Regions from separate parts of the Homo sapiens genome. Here region 2 is linked to region 1. Evidence: fine-mapped expression QTL. A gene starts in region 1. The other region holds a variant in brackets. All regions are shown on one strand. Distances are between the middles of the regions. Region 1 holds the start of ANKRD22 (ankyrin repeat domain 22). Region 2 overlaps ANKRD22 (ankyrin repeat domain 22).

Region 1 (2,922 bases):
AAGAAAGCTAGCAGCAACCTTAGGAGAGAAGCAATGACAGTGAAGAGTTCTGTCCACACAAATTAGTTGAAAGAGGTTACAAAAGAGGCTACCAGAGGTTACAAAATATTGCATAACAGAGTGAAGTACCCAATGGATATACCATTAATGTTTTTCTAAGTCAATGGGAAGACACTTAAATGTCTTAAGAGTCTACAGAAATACAAAATCAAACCAAGCCAAAGAGGAAGTCAGCTGCAATTTTAGTGGGTATTGCAGACTTCCCTCTCCTCCAACGGAAGAATTAGCTAATTCTTAAACTCCAGAGAGGCTGGCCTCGATGTCAACTGCATAGTGAAACATAAAATCTTTGAAATAATTATAAAAATAGCTCAGTATATCCACCAGTGGAGTAAGAAGAATTTCCCTGAATATTTATAAGCACAGGCCTAGTATCCTGGTCACTAGTTTCTGGCCACTAAGGAGCCTCAACTGATTGGGAAAATCACATCAATTGGTTTGAGATGGTTGAACTATTTCTTCCATGATATTATTGAGCAAATAGGCTTGCTGCCCCCTGCTCACAGAAGCCAATATCTGGACACTGGGTTTTGAGGAAAGAAAAACTTTATTGCAAGACAGGTCAGCAAGGAGACAGGAGGTGGGCTCAAATCTGCCTCCCCAGTTTGGAATCTGAGAAAATGTATGGCTTAGAGGGTGAGGGAAAGGATTTAGGAATGTTGGTTTGGCAGGGACTGATTGAAGGGCTTCAAATTTGACCACTAAAGGTAAGGTATGTTGAGGCAGATTTCAGCCCTGGATCTTTTGGGCCAATGAGCCCCTAGCTTCTGAAAGAGGTCCTGCATTTAGGTTCCCGTCATGTCCTTGTCTTCTTGGTTCCCAGGGGAGGGATCATTTGTTCTAGGTTCTGTTAGAGGCAAAAACATTTTTATTGTGCATGCCTGGGCTAAATGACTTACAGTTTTTGGCTCTGTTATATCTACAGAGTAAATTGACATTTGTTATCAACAAAGTACGGCCCATTTGGGCTGGTCCCATGGTTATAATGGGTGTGTGGACGGTCGAGTGTTTCAATTCTGGGAAAGTTTGATGTGATTGTATTCAGTTCAAGGAAAATGTGTGAATGATATCATATATAGCATATAAAATGTTTACAATATTTAAGAGATTGGGCATACTAGCATGTTTGATAAATAAATTGATGATGCAATTTAAAATGCATAACAGAGTATTTGATTTTAGACTTATGATTTTTAAATTGAATATTATAAAGTAATTTGGCTAAATGTGTGAATAGTATTGGAATATTTAAAACAACTTAAGATTTATTATGTTAGTAAATTTATTAGTTTACAAAACTGCATAAATAGCTGGAAAAGCGTTACTTGTTAGGCTGAGAATTTTGAAGATTATTTTTCAAGTTCTTTGCCAGACACGTGTGGCTCTCACAAGTAAGTTTGTTGGTCTCTAGCCTTTCTCAATGGCCACTGAAAACCAGATTTTGATTACGAAATGTCTGAAATACAGTATCTTGGTTTGAACCGTGAGTCCTTCCTGCCAATGTAAGAACTTTTCTTCCTCCCTTAACTTTGCTTCCTTCTTTCCTGCATGTTACCACTGGCAGAGCAAATATGACTCAGAAACCGGCTCCTCAGGGTTGTAACATTAGATGATACAGGCTTGGGTCGTTACACATGACACCAGTGCCTTTGTTTCATTGGGCTGGGCTCTCTGGAAGGTGTGCTGCTGCCTGAGCTGCTGGAAAAGCACTGACAGGTGTTTGCTAGAAAAGCACTCCTGGAGCTTGCCACCAGCTTGGACTTCTAGGGACTTTCCTCTCAGCCAGGAAGGATTTTGATATTCATCAGAAATACCTCCAGAAGATTCAAGGAGCTGTAGAGGTGAAGTAAGCCTGTGAAGGACCAGCATGGGAATCCTATACTCTGAGGTACATCACCTTTCTGAAAGCAGAGTTCCAAAGATGTTAAAAGTTACTCATGCTTTTCAGATGCAATTTTCTATCCCTGTTAATATATTTCTGTTTTGTCTGTTCAACTCCCTGGGGGAGCATTAAGTCAGAAAAAATAAAGTCCTATGTGTTATTCTTGTTGATATTCTTAATAGTTTAAGACAAAGTATTTTGTAATTCTAAAATATTAGCTAGATCTAAGTTGAGATGAATATAATACACATTTCATAGTATCTGGATGTTTGCAAGGATAATTTGGACAAAATCGAGTTTGAGTTGTGCTTTTCTCATGACAAACACTCAGAGAAAAAGAGAAAATTGTACTCAATTGGATTTTCTAAATATCCAAAAGATTGACTGCCTCTTTTATGGAACCACATGACCAGAGTAATGCCTTTCAGCTTGGTATTTGAAGGGAGATTCACCTTTAGTAAATATTAGTAAAGACTATCACTATGAAGAAGAGGAATAATAACATATTTTGATGATTTGATTATTTTCTTTTCACATCTGATAAATACTGAGGTACTTTTACTTGTATTGGAAGTAACTTATTAGAATCAAATGGATTTTTAATGATGTTTCAAGAAAGTACAAGCAAGGAATGTTTAGACAAGAGTACAAGAGGTGTAATGATGTCATTATACATAATTTACTCTCTCTCTCCTCTGACACAATTAACTGGTTAATCTGCATTTCATTGCAGATGCTCAGGGGAACCTTCTTGGATAGTTTTGATCTAGTATTAAAGACAGTTTATTTGCAGTTATTTCTAATGCCATGTGTGTATATATCTCTCCGTGTGTGCAAATGCAGTGTTTGATTGGTTTATAACTCTAGGTATGTCTTGCTCAGTGATTTTAGCCTCATGAAGGGATCATATACATGAAAATGACAAAACATATAGTGCTTTTAAATGCTACTCTGGTAACTCTCAAACTTTAGACTGCCCA
Region 2 (2,922 bases), 28 kb after region 1:
CATTCTATTTGTGATGCCTAACATATTTTACGTGTGTGCACATCTGTGTGTATTACCATTGTTTTATGATAGAGACCATGGCCCCATTCCTGTTTCTATCAATTATTTACATCATTTCGGTTTTGCCTATGCTGGTATCATGTTTAAATGCAGGCAGTTGTGTGTGTGTGTGTGTGTGTGTGTGTGTGTGAGAGAGAGAGAGAGAGAGAGAGAGAGCAAAAGAAAATAACTTTATGAAATTTATATTCCCTTTTATTTCAAATAGAACTTTTGGATAAATTTGTATTGACAGTTACTGTGCATTACCATTTCTTTAGATAGCTTTGAAATATATTAAGTAAGAGATTATTAAAGATGAAGTTAAAAGTTTGTTGAAGGTTTTTCTTGGTCTTTTCATTTAAATTCAATAGATTTAATATTCCTGCCTGTGACCAAAATTTCTCTAGGATATTTTCTCAGCAATTTATGTGTATTTCTCTCTCTAGATAGAGATATTGCATTCCTTCAGCTAGGCACAGTGACACTAGCCTGTAGTCCCAGCTACTTGGAAGGCTGAGATGGGAGGATCCCTTGAACTCAGGAGTTTGAGACACATGCAGGTACACACACAGACACCACTTCTAATACCAAAATTTTTTCAAAAACTATCTGAGTATTAAAATCTACTTTCTAGGTAAGACAGTGTTTTGTATTTTTGGATAATTAGACTCTATTTCACATGACAAAATTCAGAGCCAGAACTTCCATTTGTCATGCCACCACTTAATAAAAATAAATAATTGCAACATGATCTCCTATAATTTTAGAGGTGTTTCTAGGGAATGGGATCCAGAGCTAAACCTGTCTTGATAGCCAAAGGTACTATTTCTTCACTCACCAGCACCATGGTTGCTTGGCTACTTTTCCAAAGGCCAAATTTTGGACACTAATGCCCTAGCTATAATTTTTTTGACCTGTAGTGTTTTAAATTAGTACCAACAGAGTAGATGCACTAGCTTATAACACATAATATAAGCTATAACAAATCACGTTTGGGAAATGTCTCTGTAGAACTGCACTGATCTTGCAGGTGTCCTGCAGCAAGAGCACCCGACTTCTTCAGTAGGAATCATCACCAAAACCATAGAGGATAATGTTTATGTAAAGGGCCATGTGGAGACTCTTTAAGGGAAAGATGGTGACATGATCAAGGTGATGATCACCGAGGCATATAGCATGCGACAAAGAAACTTTGGCACAATTCAGCATCAGCTTTTTTAAGTTGCATTCTTTAGAACAGAAAATGGAAAACAAAAAGGCAGAGATTGATGGCTTATATGACACTAACATACATATACATTGAGACAGAGAAGAAATTTTTTTTTTTTTTTTTTTGAGACGGAGTCTCGCTCTGTCGCCCAGGCTGGAGCGCAGTGGCGCAATCTCGGCTCACTGCAAGCTCCGCCTCCCGGGTTCGAGCCATTCTCCTGCCTCAGCCTCCGGAGTAGCTGGGACTACAGGCACCCGCCACCGCGCCCGGCTAATTTTTTGTATCTTTTAGTAGAGACAGGGTTTCACCGTGTTAGCCAGGACGGTCTCGATCCTCTGACCTCGTGATCCGCCCGCCTCGGCCTCCCAAAGTGCTGGGATTACAGGCGTGAGCCACCGCGCCCGGCGAAAAATTTTTTAAGTACTAGAAATAGTTGTCTATCAATGGTTTGCAGACTATTTTTCTGCTTAGTTGTATACTACAAAGTGTGAAAAGGATTTGCCAATGAAGCCACATGCTATGGTCTGTGGAGGGCCCGACTTATGAGCTGAAGTTTTGGCCCTTTGTGTTTCAGTATGGCTGTACCGCATTACATTATGCCTGTGAAATGAAAAACC[A/C]GTCTCTTATCCCTCTGCTCTTGGAAGCCCGTGCAGACCCCACAATAAAGAATAAGGTAAGGGAGGGTGGACCGTGGTCTGAGGTTCCTCTAGCAGCAGCATCTTCTAATCTAGGCCTTATGTTGAAGTAAATTATTTGCCTCTGACGTAAACAACAGTAAAATTAATCATCCTCATTAAGGAATGAAGTTATCCTATTACTATTAGGACTGATTGCCTTTTAAAGCCCTTGCCAACACAGAGAGTCAATTGGTCTAAGCTACGTACGAGATCTTGGGCACTCTATTGGAAATAACTGTATATTTTTCCCCCCTCAGCATGGTGAGAGCTCACTGGATATTGCACGGAGATTAAAATTTTCCCAGATTGAATTAATGCTAAGGAAAGCATTGTAATCCTTGTGACCACACCGATGGAGATACAGAAAAAGTTAACGACTGGATTCTATCTTCATTTTAGACTTTTGGTCTGTGGGCCATTTAACCTGGATGCCACCATTTTATGGGGATAATGATGCTTACCATGGTTAATGTTTTGGAAGAGCTTTTTATTTATAGCATTGTTTACTCAGTCAAGTTCACCATGGCCGTAATCCTTCTAAGGGAAACACTAAAGTTGTTGTAGTCTCCACTTCAGTCAGAAACTGATGTTTCAGCTAGGCACAGTGGTACATGCCTGTAATCCCAGCTACTTGGGAGGCTGAGGTGGGAGGATCACTTGAACTCAGGAGTTTGAGAGCAGCCAGGGCAACACAGCGAGACCCTGTCTCAAAAAAAAAAAAAAAAAAAAAAGCCCTGGTGTTCCAAACTCAGTCTTTCCTGAAGAAGAGGATCTGAGTTATCTTCTGAAACAGCGTTCTCCCTTCCCAGTTGTATCACTCTTATAAAAAGACTGTCCAGTCTATGTCATGCCCTAGGAGACAAACTGTTCCTCCCAGCCCCCTTTGAGTATTGAGCAGAAGAATCAAATTATTAAATACGTATGTTTGTACAGAATGGTATTTGTGTATGTGTGTGGGCTTAGAGATTCACAAGTAAATATTCCTTTGGTGAAGGA

Evidence for each region. PIP is the estimated chance that this variant, and not a neighbour inherited with it, causes the effect. A credible set is the group of variants that fine-mapping cannot tell apart.
Region 2: its variant is the best candidate, but not a certain one, in a credible set for the expression of ANKRD22 in whole blood (INTERVAL, PIP 0.85).

What each region holds. Positions count from the first base shown.
Region 1 is chr10:88,850,613-88,853,534 of GRCh38, reverse strand. It overlaps ANKRD22 (ankyrin repeat domain 22), which reads left to right and starts at 1,691. Exons shown (of 6, transcript NM_144590.3): 1 at 1,691-1,948. The coding sequence starts at 1,928.
Region 2 is chr10:88,822,280-88,825,201 of GRCh38, reverse strand. ANKRD22 (ankyrin repeat domain 22) reads left to right here. Exons shown (of 6, transcript NM_144590.3): 5 at 1,824-1,922; 6 at 2,184-2,922. The coding sequence ends at 2,261. Among named protein-coding and RNA genes, the nearest start is that of LIPM, 21 kb to the right of the region's middle. The variant A/C (reference allele first, on the strand shown) is at 1,867.